Linked DNA regions of Homo sapiens: region 2 is linked to region 1. The links come from fine-mapping of genetic effects on gene expression. A gene starts in region 1. The other region holds a variant in brackets. All regions are shown on one strand. Distances are between the middles of the regions.

Region 1 (8,316 bases):
CCACAGGGTAATGGGCACAGCAGCAATCACACGGCCACAGGGTAATGGGCACAGAGCAATCACACGGCCACAGGATAATGGGCACAGAGCAATCACACGGCCACAGGATAATGGGCACAGAGCAATCACACGGCCACAGGATAATGGGCACAGAGCAATCACACGGCCACAGGGTAATGGGCACAGAGCAATCACACGGCCACAGGGTAATGGGCACAGAGCAATCACACGGCCACAGGATAATGGGCACAGAGCAATCACACGGCCACAGGGTAATGGGCACAGCAGCAATCACACGGCCACAGGGTAATGGGCACAGCAGCAGTCACACGGCCACAGGGTAATGGGCACAGAGCAATCACACGGCCACAGGGTAATGGGCACAGCAGCAATCACACGGCCACAGGATAATGGGCACAGCAGCAATCACACAGCCACAGGGTAATGGGCACAGAAGCAATCACACGGCTACAGGATAATGGGCACAGAGCAATCACACAGCCACAGGATAATGGGCACAGAGCAATCACACAGCCACAGGATAATGGGCACAGCAGCAATCACACAGCCACAAGGTAATGGGCACAGCAGCAATCACACGGCTACAGGGTAATGGGCACAGAGCGATCACACGGCCACAGGATAATGGGCACAGAGCAATCACACAGCCACAGGGTAATGGGCACAGCAGCAATCACGCAGCCACAGGGTAACGGGCACAGCAGCAGTCACACAGCCACAGGGTAATGGGCACAGAGCAATCACATAGCCACAGAGCAATGGGCACAGAAGGAATCAGACAAGCCCTGCCTTCACTCTTTATAAACTTGCCTTGGGAACAGGCTTCAAACATTCTTCTAGCTTTCAGGGAAACGGTCCACCCCACAGCTCCTTCCAGTCAAAAACAAGGTACTCATGGCCCTAGCTCTGTGGGAGAAACCAGGGAGTAGATACAGAAAATACTGTGCTAGATTAAGCCTTCCTTCAGGGAACTAACGATTGACACAGACTTACCATGGAAAACATCTTGGGATGTTTAATCAGACATGGGTTTAAATCCTAGTTCAGCCATTTAAAAATGATGTGATTCTGGCCAGGTTCAGTGGCTAGCACTTGTAATCCCAGCTACTTGGGGGGCTGAGGCAGGTGGATCCCTGAGGCCAGGAGTTCAAGACTAGCTGGGGTAACACAGTGAGACTCCCCCTCCATCTCCGAAAAAAAAAAAGGGATGTGATCTTGGTCAGATTGCTTCTCCAAGCCTTCCTTCTGCATATGTGGGGATAATACAGACTTCATGTTATGCCTTTGGGGATCATGTGATATATACCAGTCAAGCCCTTGCTAGTGGGTTGGCACTGCTATCTCCTGACCCCATCTCCCCGGGACGCTATGATGGATAAATGAGATAGAGCTACAGTAAGAATCCAGTTACAGAGTCTAATTAGGTGCTCAGTAAATGTTGGTTTCCCCAAACCTTTTCATGGTTGGCAAGACCAGAATCTTGTCACTATTCTTTGCCTCCCCCAGCTCAGAAACATCAAAGGATGTAGGTCTTTATCAGGTATGTTTCCTTTGGCCCAGAAACTAAAACGAGGGTGCAAACACTGCTCCCTATTCCTCATTCCTGAGTCATCTCCCCTTTCCCAGGAGTGAGAGATGCTACTCCTTCCTCAGTCTGTCATGCCCCCAAGAGCTCATATTCCCCATTTTCACAGGCCAGACACCAGCAGAGAAAACACTGACTCCAGGAGACTAAGGACCATCTTACCCCTCCCACCATTTATGGGAGCGGCAGCAGGCCAAGGGCTCAGCACTATGTAACCCACTTGTGGAGGCAATCCATCTCATCTCACAGTGGCTGAGACCGACTCCCAGGGAGGGTTACGCTGCGAAGGGGACCTCCCTGGGGGTTACCGCCCTTCTTTCTGGCTCAGGAGGCTCTCCCAGGGTCCCAAAATATAGTCCCTCCTGACGCTGTAAATTTAATTTTATTGCATTATTGGCTTAGTTGAGCAGATGTTTGGCCCTAAACACCTGCCTTCCAGGCGCATTAAGTACGCACAGTTTGAAGTAGTAAGTCCCAGGGCGGTTACTAGCTGGAAAATACTCCGGTACTCTATCATGGATGGTTAACTAGTGCTTGCCACAGCCCGCTTCTTAGGTTTATTAAGCACCTACTCCATGCCAGACACTGTGCTAGGTGGTACACAGGTAAGATCTCTTCTATTCACAATCACCTTTTGAGGACTAGTATTCCTGCTCTAGAGATAAGGACACTGAGGCGCAGAAACGATTTGCTGAGGGTGTCCCAGCCTGAATGTGGTGGGGCTGGGAAGCAATTACGGCTGAGGGGCTCCAAGCCCTTAGAGCTCTGCCATTCCGCTCCTGAAAAGCTGTCTGGGGGCGGGGACCAGACCATTTCCCCCCAGCCTACTACTGCTGACACATCTCGGGGTGCCTCACCCCCAGCTCTCCCAGAACAGCCTCCTGGTCTTAGCAGCGTGTGCCAAGATTTAGCAGGGAGCATCTAGTTCCTATGGGCTCCCTCCCAGACCTTGCCTGTAAGATTCTGAATCCGGACGCACGCAGGTTCACAAAGTGATACCTCAGGAGCGCAGCCGCCCCCACCGCGGGTGTGACCCGCGCAACCCCACAAGGGACACTGTACCTCGGCGATCTCAATGCAAAGTCGCCCAAAACTCAGTGGGGAGACACACTTCCATTCTCCCCGCTCTGTCGATGAGGAAACGTCATGAGCGTAAGACACTTGGAGCGTTAAGACACTTGCTCAAGAACGCAGCTGCCGTTCAGGAAATGAGGCCGTCGGGGCGCCCAGGGGTGCTCGGAGGGAGCCCGTTTCCCAAAGCACGTGCGCGAGCCCCGGGCGCTTCCAAGGGCTCTAACTTCACGTCTGCTCCGTGTTTTCAAGCGCAGGGGGCCGGAGGCGGCAAGACGCGGCCCAACGCGCGGCGGGACCCGGACCACCCCCCGCCAAGGCCACCCCGGGACCCCTAGACCCGCCCCGACGCGGGGGACGTTTCGGTCCGGGCCCGCGCGAGCGTGCGCGACAGGAGGAGACGCGACGGGGCAGCACCGCTCTGGTGGCGCATTGCTGGACGCAGCCCGGGGCCGGGGAGCCGCGGCACCCACCTAGGTCCATGGCGGCGACGCCGGCGGCTGCGCGGGGCTAACGCCCCCTCCCCTCCGAGAACTCGAACGCGGCGCGGGACGCACGGCACGATGGGAGACGCAGGAGCCACGGCGGCCGCGCTTAGGCCTGCTCACAACCTCCGCCCGGCCCCGCCCACAGCCTCCGCCGCGCACGCGCAGTCCTCACGAACGAGCGCGCCAAGCGCACAGCGCCGCCTTCCGGCAGAGCCCTCCCACCAGCCCTCAGGTACCCGGACGTCGCTCACTAGACCCCTCCGCACCGTCCCCTGCCCGGCCCCTCTTCCGGGGTCCCAGCGGGTCGGGCTCATGATTCCCCGGCCCCGCATTCACCCTCACCCGGTAACCCCGGGCGTGCCCCGCACACAGTTCACCCCCACCGAGCGCCTCCCCCGGGACGCCCACCACCCAGCGCGGCCGCACCACGCGAGGCTTCCACTCCCACCCGCCCAGCTCGCGCCACATACAGTCCCTCAACGCGCTCCTGCCGCGCCGCCCCCTCCAGACAGCAGCGTTCCGGATCCTAGACGCTTTTTGACGGCTGGTCCTCCCCAGAAAATGCGCCGTGTGAGCCCAAACATGGTGGGGTTTACGCTGGACCCCGAGCTTGCAATCTGTGCTTGACAAAACACAAACATCGCGTGCCTGTCTCCTCCCCCTGAGATCGAGTAGTAACAGCCACTCCAACTCTCCACCTCCAGCTTCTAGCACCAGGGACCGCCTCCACCACCCCATGTGCCAAGTGGAGTTCGAGCTGCGCGGCCCTCAAGCAGCTGAAGGGTCCCGTGAGCGATCAGGAGAAGCTGCTGGTCTACGGCTTGTACAAACAGGCCACCCAGGGCGACTGCGACATCCCCGGCCCTCCGGCCTCAGACGTGAGAGCCAGGGCCAAGTGGGAGGCTTGGAGCGCGAAAAAAGGGGCGTCCAAGATGGACGCCATGAGGGGCTACGCGGCCAAAGTGGAGGAGCTGACGAAGAAGGAAGTGGGGGGCGTGGAGCGCGAACAAAGGGGCGTGCAAGATGGACGCCATGAGGGGCTACGCGGCCAAAGTGGAGGAGCTGACGAAGAAGGAAGTGGGGGGCGTGGAGCGCGAACAAAGGGGCGTCCAAGATGGACGCCATGAGGGGCTACGCGGCCAAAGTGGAGGAGCTGACGAAGAAGGAAGTGGGGGGCGTGGAGCGCGAACAAAGGGGCGTCCAAGATGGACGCCATGAGGGGCTACGCGGCCAAAGTGGAGGAGCTGACGAAGAAGGAAGTGGGGGGCGTGGAGCGCGAACAAAGGGGCGTCCAAGATGGACGCCATGAGGGGCTACGCGGCCAGAGTGAGGAGATGAGGAAGAAGGAGGCTGGCTGAGGGCTCCTCGGGAATGGAAAGGGCTTCTTAGACCTTGATGGCTGAAATGTCCTGAAACTGTCGCAAGCTTAGCCGAGACATCAATAAATCACTTAAACTGCATGAGAGTGACTGCTGTTGGAAAGGAGAAACTCGGTGACTGAGTGCTGGGGAGGCGTCCAAATACACAGACTAACTTTTTGTATGGTTTTGGGTGGAGTTCCCAGCTCTCCTATTACAAGAGCGTATGTAGGTATTTGGAAGGACGAGGGGGACAGTGTGCTGTGGAAATGCCCAAGATCTGAGGGCAGGAGACCATTCTCCAGTGACAGCCTCTTGGGAGGTTGAGGCCCCAGCCCCTTATCTCTTCAAGGCTGATTTACTAATACCCCAGCACCACAGAGGGGAGAGGGACTCTGTCCTCCTAAACACTAAAGTCAAGTCCAAAAGCCCCCACTGGAACACAGGGCCTACCCGGTTCATGTTTTGAGGGAGACCAAGCTTTCCGTGATGATAATGTGATGAAACAATTGATGCGCCAGAACACAGCAGTTTAGAAACAATGGAGCAGATGGTGTCAAAATCCCAGCCCCAGAAAGGCTCACCTAAGGCCGGGCAACCAAAATGTTCCCGGGACTATTCTGTACTTAACCCTGGTTTCTGCTTAGGGGACGGTGGGACAATATGCATATGGATGTCTATGTGGGATTTGTTGCAAGAGCACAACACACCCCTTGACCTATGCAAGTGCCAGAGTGTCTGAGCCCAGCTTCTACTCCTGTTAATGATCACAGGAGCCTCATACACAACCATTGTGCATGGCGGCTGGAGTATGGAGTAGTAAATGGTATCCAGAAAGGCAGGTCTACGGTGGCATATGGGATTTCCTGGTACTTCTTCTTTAATAGAAACTATCTTCACAGATCATGACATCAGGTCAGCTGCAGTTCTCACTGGGACCAATAAACAATAGAAGCAACAACCATAAAGACTTAAGAGGACAAAGGAAACCAAACCTCACTGTGTGTCTTCAAGATCTGTTCACATAGTTGCAGGAAGTTGCTGTAGACAAAGTACATTACTAAAGAATGAAGCCCACCCAGGACATCACAGCAACGAAAGAACTATTTCTGGTAACTGTGGACCAGGTGAGAGCCACACTGTAGAACAGCAGTGCTGCCCTCTCTTCTTTGGCGAATGTTATGAAGACATTCTGATGCACTTAGGATCATGATTCATGTTAAATGTAAATTAATTGTAAAAATAATACATCTTGCTCCAAAATGTGGTGACAATTTAGAAGCTGTCCACATAGCCAGACCACTCTGTAAATCACAGAACCTAGAAAGTAAAAATGTGCCATAATTAGGACAGCAGAAAGTAACAGTAAAATAAAGTTTTAAAAAAAAAAACAGAAAATAAGGATTTATCTATTTGTATTTGCTTAAGAAGAGGTTACCTATAGGATGCAGGGGGAATGGGATTGATGGGCATGGGGTATACTGTGAAAGGAAAATAAAATCTTGGGACCAAATTCACTAAGCGAAAAGGAAAAGTTAAGCTTGGAAATTGAGTCATGGAATATGCAAAAAACTTCCTTTTGTTCCTAAACAGATAAGCTACAAGACAGAAGGCCACATATCTCCCCAGGTGGTCTCCCTCACCTGACAATATAAATTAACAGCTTATCTTCATAGGTAAGGGACAAAGACAACACCAGAAACCATCCCTCACCAGCCGAGACAAAACATAGATGTACTGAGCTGAATGCATAACTGTTCCTCTGCCTGCTGCTTTCACTGTAACATATAGATTTGGTGAGCAGTAAATGTAGATTTACTGAGCTGAATGCATAACTGTTCCTCTGCCCGCTCCTTTCACTGTAACATGTAGATTTGGTGAGCGCTAAATGTAGATTTACTGAGCTGAATGCATAACTGACTGTTCGTCTGCCCGCTCCTTTCACTGTAACATGTAGATTTGGTGAGCACTAAATGTAGATTTACTGAGCTGAATGCATAACTGAGTGTTCCTCTGCCCGCTCCTTTCACTGTAACATGTAGAGTTGGTGAGCGCTAAATGTAGATTTACTGAGCTGAATGCAAAACTGACTGTTCCTCTGCCTGCTCCTTTCACTGTAACATGTAGATTTGGTGAGTGCTAAATGTAGACTTACTGAGCTGAATGCGTAACTGTTCCTCTGCCCGCTCCTTTCACTGTAACATGTAGATTTGGTGAGCACTAAATGTAGATTTACTGAGCTGAATGCAAAACTGACTGTTCCTCTGCCTGCTCCTTTCACTGTAACATGTAGATTTGGTGAGTGCTAAATGTAGATTTACTGAGCTGAATGCAAAACTGACTGTTCCTCTACCCCCTCCTTTCACTGTGACATGTAGATTTGGTGAGCGCTGATCAAAGCCTAATAAGAATGTAACCACTTATCTCCCTACCTACCCTCCTGTATTTTTCCTTTCCCTCTTCCCTCCCTTCCTGCTCTTTCCCTTTTAAATACTTGTTAGGAATAATGCTCAAAATCCTAAGGAAATAGAACACTCGAACAAAGGATTCTTAGCAAAGCAATTTTACTTCTGTGCAGAGGGGTGCCTCCTTGGCCAGTTGTCATGAGAGCACACCTGAACAAAGGGGCACGAGAGCCTTTGTTCCTGACACAAGTCCTGCCCCTCTACCCTTTCCCCATTGGCCGGGGTCAGGTCGTACAATCTAAACTAATCGCGCTTGGCTAAACATTTGATTTTTTTAGATAGGGTGGGCCCGTAAAAGAAAGCGGAGAGGAAGGGGAAGGGGTGTCTGTAATGAGCTAGAAAGTTAGTCCTCTTTCCAAATAAGGAAAGGAATGTGAGCTGGTACTGATAACGCCTGGTGCTGTGGCGTGCCTGGGCATCTCACAAAGGCAAAAAGGGAAAAGGAGAAAAAGGGGGCGGGGCGCTATGAATTAAAGAATAAAAGATTGATCAGATTATTTGAAGAGAAACGTCGTCATATCCCACATACTGAGGCCCTAAAAATCCTCTCTGGAAAGTGTGCGGGGGCCACAGATCTGTGGTTGTGTCTCAGGCACATCCTCAGCCTTGGCAAAATAAACCTCTAAATGGGCGAGACTTGTCTCAGACACTTACCCGGTTTACAATACCTTTTCATATTGTTTTCATTTTTGAACCATGTGGCTCTATTGCTTTATATAAAGAGGATGAGGCAAGGGCACTTCTTTATTATCATTGAAGTCAGAGTAAATTTACTATTGATTTCCCCTGAGGTTGGGGTAAGAACTCTTAGAACAAACAGGGAAACTTCTCAACTCTTACCCTGAATTTCAACGGACACGTTGGAGGTCTCCTGAAAACTCTGGCTGCTAAGTCACAGCGGCACTGAGTGGCAGGTGAGAGAGCCAGAAAGCCACATGAAGGAGCACTCACCGTCCCTAGGTTTGTTAATTCCGGTAACATGTCAGACGGACACGGACTTCAGACAGTCCTGCAGGCTAACTAGGAGAGCTCTGGCAACACGGCCGTTCTAAGTCTTCCCGGAGATTTAACTCAAGGCACACTTGTATTTACATGTAGGCTCCACAACCCCTTGATTCAAAAAAACAACTCTGGAGAAGCTGAAGAACTTTCCAACTTCATCTGTTTGAAACAACAGCTTGCAGCCTGAACAACGCAGTGAGACGGTCGCTACAAAAGATCAAAACGTTGGCTGGGTGTGGTGGCACGTGGCTGTGGGCCCAGCCATTCGGGAGGCTGAGGTGGGAGGATCTCTTGAGCCCCAGAGGTCAAGGCTGCAGAAAGCCACG
Region 2 (8,326 bases), 40 kb after region 1:
CTGGAATTATAGGCATGAACAACTATGCCCAGCCAAGTCAATCACTGTTAGGTGAGCTATGGCTCTGGGCAGGCAGACATGCATTGGATCTTGGGTCTGCCTTCACTAGCTGTGGTCCCTGAGCAGTAGCTGGAATGACAGGCATGAATAACCACGCCCAGCCAAGTCGACCATTGTTAGGTGAGCTAGGGCTCTGGGCAGGCAGACACGGCTTTGGATGGGTCTGCCTTCACTAGCTGTGGTCCCTGAGCAGTAGTCCCTGAAGTGTCAGCTTCCTCGTTGGTGAACTGGGAGGAATAACAGAATCTCCCTGGTCACTGTGAGGATTAAGTGAGATGATGCACAGAAGTTACTTCATACCTTACCTGCCTCACGAGTAATTCAGTCAATGTTGATTCTCTTTTTTAAAAATTATGTTTTTTGTAGAGACGGGGTCTTGCTGTGTTGCCCAGGCTAATCTGGAACTCCTAAGCTCAAGGGATCCTCCTGCCTCGGCCTGTCAAAGTGCTGAGATTATAGGCATTAGCCGCCATACCCAGCCATGTTTATTATCTTTTAAAATTATCATGAAACCTGCTAGGCTGTTAGAGAACTTCACATCGATTATGGAAAAGAAATAGATGCCAATTTTAACACTTGGTTTCTGGTTCTTTATGTAATGATATTGAGTTCCCAAATTGCTGAGTATATGAGCCACTCCTGAGTCTTGACTTCTGAATCCTATGAAAGGAATGACGTCAGCAGCTCTGAATCCTAATGTCATTGTGATCCGTTTCCCTTAGATTCCCTTAGCCTCAGCGTGGGTCACATGCCCCGCACACAAATTCGCCTCATTACATTTCTGTCTCTTCTCATCAGAAATAGGGATTAATAGGCTTGGCTCTAAACAGACTTTCCTCACAGTTGGAGCACGCCTAAAATGTCTCTTACACCTTGGGAGGTGGAGGGGACAGAGAGTACCATTCATCAGAAACACCCCAGCCACCATTAAAAGTAAACTAATAGTGGCACCCGTTGTTGAGACTTGCCTAAATTGCTGCTCGCAGCTCTTTCTCAGTCACGCCTTGCTAGAATACGTTTCTGTGCCAGTGTGAGAGCTACGTGCTGGGGTTCTGTGATCAGTACCCGCTTACTCGCCCCATTATTTAGTGCTCTGATAGCTGTTGTGGGATTTGGAAATAAATCTAAATAATCCAAGCATTGTGGTTTTCACATTGATACTGATGGCTGGGGTGTAAGAAATAGGGAAAGAAGGTAGGAAATACTTGGTGTGGTGCCCAGTATCCAGGACATGAGGATGACGGGAGGAGTCTCGCCTTTCCCCTTTCCCTTCTCCCCTCCAGGCAGAGGGGTCAGCCTCGGCCGCTCCTCTCACACGCCTGGGCCTATCTCTGGTTTCCTGCAGGGAGAGGGAAAGCCCGTGGCTGGGGGTGCAGGCGCTGTTACATCCTCTGTGTCTTATTCTCCGTTTAAAATCTGGTTTGCCTGGTTCGTCTATCCCGAGGTTTGACAAATGAACTTCTAAAATAACTCGTCAGGAGAAGACTTGCGCTAACAAGCTGTGCGGGGGAGGGTGGGAGGCCATGCAGTCACTGCGAGGCCCCACCCTCGGCCACTCTCCCAGCCCGCCCGTGGTGAGGAGCCGCCCCTGGGAAAGGCCAGGCGTCGCAGGCTGCTGCCGGGGTTGCCTCTTGCCTCATTGCCTCATCTCTAGAGTGTTCCCTGCTCCGGTGCAGACTGAACGTTGAAGCCCAATGGGTCTTGATGAAACTATAGATCTGATTCTGTCACTGCTTTGCTTAAGATCCCTCAATGGCATGATACTGTCTTCTGATAAAATGCCAAACTCCTCAGCTTCCCATAGGAGGCCTCCTCCGTGTTGGCCTGCCCACCTCCCACCTCCTGTGCCACTACAGCCCCAGCGCTGATTGACCGGCTCACTGCCTGTGCCACCACACCCCCACCCGCTGATTGGCTGGCTCACCTCCTGTGCCGCCACAGCGCCACCGCTGATTGGCCGGCTCACCCCCTGTGCCGCCACAGCACCACCAGTGATTGGCAGGCTCACCTGTGCCACCACACCCCCACCCGCTGATTGGCCAGCTCACCTCCTGTGCCACCACACCCCCCCACCCGCTGATTGGCCACCTCAACTGTGCCACCACACCCCCACCGGCTGATTGGCTGGCTCACCTCCTGTGCCGCCACAGCGCCACCGCTGATTGGCCGGCTCACCCCCTGTGCCGCCACAGCACCACCAGTGATTGGCAGGCTCACCTGTGCCACCACACCCCCACCCGCTGATTGGCCAGCTCACCTCCTGTGCCACCACACCCCCCCCCCACCCGCTGATTGGCCACCTCAACTGTGCCACCACACCCCCACCGGCTGATTGGCTGGCTCACCTCCTGTGCCGCCACAGCGCCACCGCTGATTGGCCGGCTCACCATGCTTGCAGTCCTTAGGCTGCGCCACTCTCCCGCTTCCTCTCCTAGCTCTGTCCTCTGCCTGGGCCTTTATCTCAGTGTGGTGGTCTTTTAGATGGTTTTCCTCATCGCCCTGCTTTGTCCGTGGGTTTTCTATGACTGTGTGGGTGCTTCTTTTACATCAGTTACTGATACTGTAGCCATCTGTTTAATACCACCCCACTACACTGTGCGTTCCTTGGGGTTGGGGACTTTCATTATCTTTGCATCTTCTGCGCAGTGTCTGGCACGTGTGAATGGGAGATGTTGAAGGGATGCATAAAATATCTTCAGCACTAGCAGGAGTGACTCCTATAGTCGCTGTGCTGGATGCTGTCAGAGAGAGGCAGAAGGTCCCATCCCTCAAGAAAGCTATCATAGAAGAACTGGTTTATCTCCTGATCCAAAATTGATCAGACTTACTCCACAGTCCCCTGGTCTGGGAAGATTTGTAACATCTTGATTGTTTCCTTTTTATTTTCCAGGCTGTGTGGATGCCTGGGAGCCCAAAGTGCTCCGGGCGGGTATGGGCGCACATTTCCGGATGCCCATTATCAATAATCTGGAATGGGAAACCGTGCCCAATTACCTGCCCCCTGACACTCGGGTCTATGTGGCTGACAACTGTGGCCTTTATGCCCAGGCTGAGATGTCTAATAAAGCTAGTGACCATGGCTGGGTGTGTGATCAACGAGTGATGAAGTTTCACAAGTATGAGGAAGAGGAAGATGTAGAAACCGGAGCCAGTCAAGATTGGCTGCCTCATGTTGAGGTTCAGAGTTACGACTCGGACTGGACAGAGGCGCCGGCAGCTGTGGTGATTGGCGGGGAGACCTACGGCGTGAGCCTGGAGTCCCTGCAGCTGGCCGAGAGCACTGGTGGCAAGAGGCTGCTGATCCCCGTTGTGCCTGGTGTGGACAGCCTCAACTCGGCCATGGCGGCAAGCATCCTGCTTTTCGAAGGGAAAAGACAGCTGCGGGGGAGGGCGGAGGACTTGAGCAGGGACAGGAGTTACCACTGAGGACGCAGAAGTGACTTCTGCTTGAGGACGTCTGCAGCTCCTCCTACACCAGCACACTGGTGGGAGGCTGGCGGAGTCAGTGACTATGGCCCCCACGTTCAGGAGGAAGGTGTGATGCCGTCATACAGTTACAGGAAAAATAAGAACTTCCTCAGAAAGAACAGGTCCGAATTCTTCCTGTCGCGTCACTGATTTTGAGGTTCTTTTTTCTCTTGGTGACAATAGGTGACCCACGTGGCTCTGTGTGTTTTTAAAAATTGTCCACCAAGAAGCACTTTGTGCCCAGAAAGTTCCTGAAGCATCATCCTGGCAGGGAGGCGCCTGCTCCACCAGCTGGTGGGTGTTTGTAATCGCCAAGCACCAGCTATAGGTCACAGCCACATCACTCACAGCTGATCACTGGTTGGTGGAAAATAAACTATGAGCAGCAGATTACGTTAGTAAGTTGTTTTGTGTCGTTGGTGTGTCACAGTACCTGTCACGTTTGGCCTGGTAACGAGGACGTGGCTAAGGGAACACCAGGAAGCTGAGGGCTACGCTCATGGCATCCAGCAGCTCTGCTCTGGGCTCAGATGGTCTGTCTTTGAGATTGTTCAGGGCTTCACTGAGCCACTGTTTATGTATCCATAGAAACGGCTTAATTCAACAGGCCATGTCAGACCTTCTTGGCACCTCTGCAGATACCTTTTTGAGGACTTTGCAGAGA[C/T]GGAAGTCTATGCGGAAAACTGAATTTCAAAATCGGCAGCCTCACCCTGCATGTGTCAGGAAAGTGTCACTGTTTCCTGGTTCCCTGTGTTAGTCCTACTTACGTCTCATCCCCCAATGTTTAGAGGCCAAGGTTCTGAGAATGAACGCCCACAATACAGCGGCAGGACCCTTCTGTTCTCTCAGCCCCTCCAGGGCCCAGGGCAAGCTGGATCTTTACCTACTAGCGGCCAAACCAGGATGTAGCCAGGGTGTCAGGGCAAGTGCTGATGGTCATCAATGTATCTATAAGGAACTGTGGGGATGGGGTGGGTGGGTGGAATATGGGACTCTTAAGCACTGCTGGCCAGGTGCGGTGGCTCACGCCTGTAATCCCAGCACCTCGGGAGGCCGGGCGCAGTGGCTCACGCCTGTAATCCCAGCACCTCGGGAGGCCGGGCGCAGTGGCTCACGCCTGTAATCCCAGCACTTTGGGAGGCCAAGGCGGCGGATCACAAGGTCAGGAGATCGAGACCGTCCTGGCTAACACGGTGAAATCCTGTCTTCACTAAAAAAATACACAAAATTAGCCAGGCGTGGTGGCAGGTGCTACTCGGGAGGCTGAGGCAGGAGAATGGCGTGAACCCGGGAGGCGGAGCTTGCAGTGAGCCGAGATCGCGCCACTGCACGCCAGCCTGGGCGACAGAGCGAGACTCCGTCTCAAAAAAAAAAAAAAAAGCACTGCTTTTGCAGCCACACAGAGTTGGAGTTGAAGACAACACAGGAAGCGTTTCCCCACACCCCTCTGCCCAGCGGCTCCCGTAATGGTTTGGACACTGCTCACTCCAGGGAGGTCAAGTGTGTTGCTGGTGTGCCCAGGAGAAACCTTCTTTCTCTTCTACTCCCCCAACTTCCTAGTCAAACTCCCTCTTCCTAGTAAAACCAAATGACCAAGCATGATTCACGTGCCAAGGGGCAGGTTGGGATTGCTCTCCCCTGGGGGAGGGGTGTTTGCAGGGACAGTGTCCTCCCAGGCTGACATCTGAATATTTGAACATCTGCTCTGGAGCCCCACTGTGGTCTGGGCCTGCCCAGAGCTCCACATGAATGGGCAATGCAAGTGTCCCCCCAACACTGCTCCCAAAGGCTGGTGCAGAGAGGACAGGCGGAAAGGCGGCCTGGAGAATGCAAATCCATCCCACTCCAGTCTCCCCAGACACCTCAGGACAGTGCTCAAGCAGCAGGAGTCACGAAAAGGAAGCTCACATCTTTCCAGCCTAAAACCAATCTCGTGGGATTTGTTCCCCGGGTTATACTCCCACTGACTCGTTACAAAATAACAGTGAAAGAATAAACCATGTATTACCTTGTCCTTGTTTAGAAAAAGCAATGTAAACACTGGAAAGTAATTTTTTTTTTTTTTTTTGAGACGGAATCTCACTCTGTCGCCCAGGCTGGAGTGCAGTGGCGCGATCTCGGCTCACTGCAAGCTCTGCCTCCCGGGTTCCCGCCATTCTCCTGCCTCAGCCTCCCGAGTAGCACCTGCCACCAAGCCTGGCTAATTTTGTGTGTTTTTTTAGTGAAGAAAGGATTTCACCGTGTTAGCCAGGACGGTCTCGATCTCCTGACCTTGTGATCCGCCGCCTTGGCCTCCCAAAGTGCTGGGATTACAGGCGTGAGCCACTGCGCCCGGCTAATTTTTTGTATTTTTAGTAGAGACGGGGTTTCACCATGTTAGCCAGGATGGTCTTGATCTCCTGACCTCGTGATCCACCCGCCTCGGCCTCCCAAAGTGCTGGGATTACAGGCGTGAGCCACAGTGCCCGGCCAACACTGACAAGTAATTCTAAGCCCATTTTATCCTGGGTGTGAGAGGGAAAAGAAATTTACATCCCTTTGCTTTAGAGTCCGTGGCTTATATGCCACGGTGCCTTCAGTTCACTTTATATATTCATGGGTATAATTTAGTAGGGACGAGGGAGGGTGCAGGAGGGAGGCAAATTGTCCTTTCTTCAGTGAATACAGGGGAACAGATGGTTGTTATTTGCTGAGTGATTCTGGAAAATCACTACCTTGAATTCTCAGTTTTGAGTCTGACATTTGTTCTGTCACCATTTCCCCAGTAAACAGGAATAAAAAACGAGCCACATTTGACAAGGAAAACACTGCTTGGCCGAGAGACAAACATTGTCAGGATGTTGGCCACGCTCCCGCGCCTTTGTGTGGTGGCGTAGCTGTCACAGTGGCGTCTGCCAGGAGGTGGCAGGCGACACCTCCAAAACCACCCCAGTGCTGAAGGGCGGGGCTGCGATTTTTTCCTGGATTTAAATCGTTGAAAAGGGAGGAAAAGAGGATGGAGTGAAGTCTCCCTCCACCAGAGAGCATTTTGCAAGCTGTCTGTGCTCCGGGGTGTTAAAGCCGGAGACCCATCCAGATTGTCCCAGACCACCTCAGAAGAAAGAACCCGGAGTACAGGAAGACATGGGAACAAAAACGGAGGCGAAAGAGGACGAACGGGAAATAGCAGGAAAGACCGTCACAACTTTTCCCTGTGACTGCAGCCTCTGAGAAAAGCAACTCTGGGCAAAGCATAGGTGTCCAGATGTGCCTGGAGCTCACGCTGGGTGCCCACCGGCTGGCCCTTCGGTTCCTGCTTCGGGGCAGAGAGCGTTGAAATCACTCTCCCCTCGCCCCAGCCGCTGGCTCCTGGCTGGGAGCCTGGTCATTAAGGTCCAGAGGAGAAACAGACCTCTGGGGACCTGCCGTTCACCTGGGACCTTCCGCTGCTTGCCCCGGGGTTGACAGCAACCCCAGATGTCCGCACCAGCCACGCTGGGCCACACTTAGCCCCACTTTTGCCATTCTACCACGCACAGCCCTCACACACACTCCCCATCCAAGGTTCCAGGGCTCTGGGCTGAAAATCACCAGCTGTACTGCAGGGCCTGGGGCTGCCCTCTTGACCAAGCTACCTCTCCCTCAGGAGCAGAGCTGACAGGCTCACCTGTTTTTAAGAAAACATGTTGCCACCTTAAAAATTCCATGATTGTGTTTCCTCTGTTTTCTTTTTTTTTTTTTAGATGGGGTTTTGCCACGTTGCCTAGGCTAGTCTTGAACTCCCGGCCTCAAGCTATCCTCCTGCTTCAGCCTCGAAAGTGCTGGGATGCCAGGCGTGAGCCCCTGCGCCCGCCATGTTTCCTGTTTTCATCAGTGCAGGGAGTGCACACATGTAATAAGCTAGGAGCCAAGTTAGTGGATGAGCTGGTTTATTGCTCAGGATGACTGAAGTCTCAACTACGGAACCATGTTACATTCGAGCAGCTGAGACAGCAGCTGAAGCCAGGTCCTCCCGAAGCTTCAGGAAGCCTGCTTGATGCTCCACGGCTGAGAGTGACAGAGAATCCAGAATAGCTTATGGATGGGTCAGTTCTCGTCTCACCACACTCCCAATATCCAGCTTCCTGGACTGTTGTGTAGGGAAGAGCCACTTTTTTCAGTTGAAGTCTGAGTTCTTATGGGCCATGACCAAGGCTGCTGCTTCCTCAAAAGGCACGAAGGGGGCCGCGTGCGGTGGCTCACGCCTGTAATCCCAGCACTTTGGGAGGCCAAGGCGGGCGGATCACGAGGTCAGGAGTTTGAGATCAGCCTGGCAAACATGGCGACACCCTGTCTCTACTAAAAATACAAACATTAGCCCGGCGTGGTGGCGTGTGCCTGTAGTCCCAGCTACTTGGGAGGCTGAGACAGGAGACTTGCTTGAATGTGGGAGGCGGAGGTTGCAGTGAGTCAGATCGTGCCACTGCACTCCAGCCTGGGTGACAAAAGTGAAACTCTTGTCTTTAAAAAAAAAAAAAAGAAATGCAGGAAGGGAACAGGGAACAAGGCTGGGGAGGGAGGAGCCGACGGCTGCAGCAAGCTCCGGCCTCAGCCTCCCTTCCCTGCTCCTCTGAGATGCCGAGGGCGGGGCGTACTCACTGCAAGCCTGCCAAGTAGGACCTCCATGTCCTCTGACATTCGAGAGATGGATTTTTTGGCCCTGAGATCACGTCTCCTACTGTGTCGTCATTCTAGCACCTGTGGGTGACTTCCTCATGTGAGTGAGGCATAAGCACCCGGAATCCGGACTGGAGGCCGTCTCTGCCTCTGGATTGCACAC

Alleles and levels. Positions count from the first base shown, and alleles are read on the strand shown. Sizes are in standard deviations (SD) of each study's normalised expression.
As copies of C replace T in region 2, the expression in subcutaneous fat of the gene that starts at base 3,282 in region 1 goes down (small effect, 0.21 SD a copy in GTEx).

The links.
Region 2: its variant is fine-mapped to the expression of GEMIN4 in subcutaneous fat (GTEx, PIP above 0.99).

Annotation. Positions count from the first base shown.
Region 1 is chr17:748,983-757,298 of GRCh38, forward strand. GEMIN4 (gem nuclear organelle associated protein 4) reads right to left here and starts at 3,282. Exons shown (of 2, transcript NM_015721.3): 1 at 3,151-3,282. The coding sequence starts at 3,160. It also overlaps the pseudogene DBIL5P. RefSeq lists an enhancer at 2,562-2,621 and silencers at 2,802-3,221, 3,402-3,661.
Region 2 is chr17:788,584-796,909 of GRCh38, forward strand. It overlaps MRM3 (mitochondrial rRNA methyltransferase 3), which reads left to right. Exons shown (of 4, transcript NM_018146.4): 4 at 2,951-3,926. The coding sequence ends at 3,486. Among named protein-coding and RNA genes, the nearest start is that of MRM3, 10 kb to the left of the region's middle. RefSeq lists an enhancer at 2,286-2,580. The variant C/T (reference allele first, on the strand shown) is at 4,193.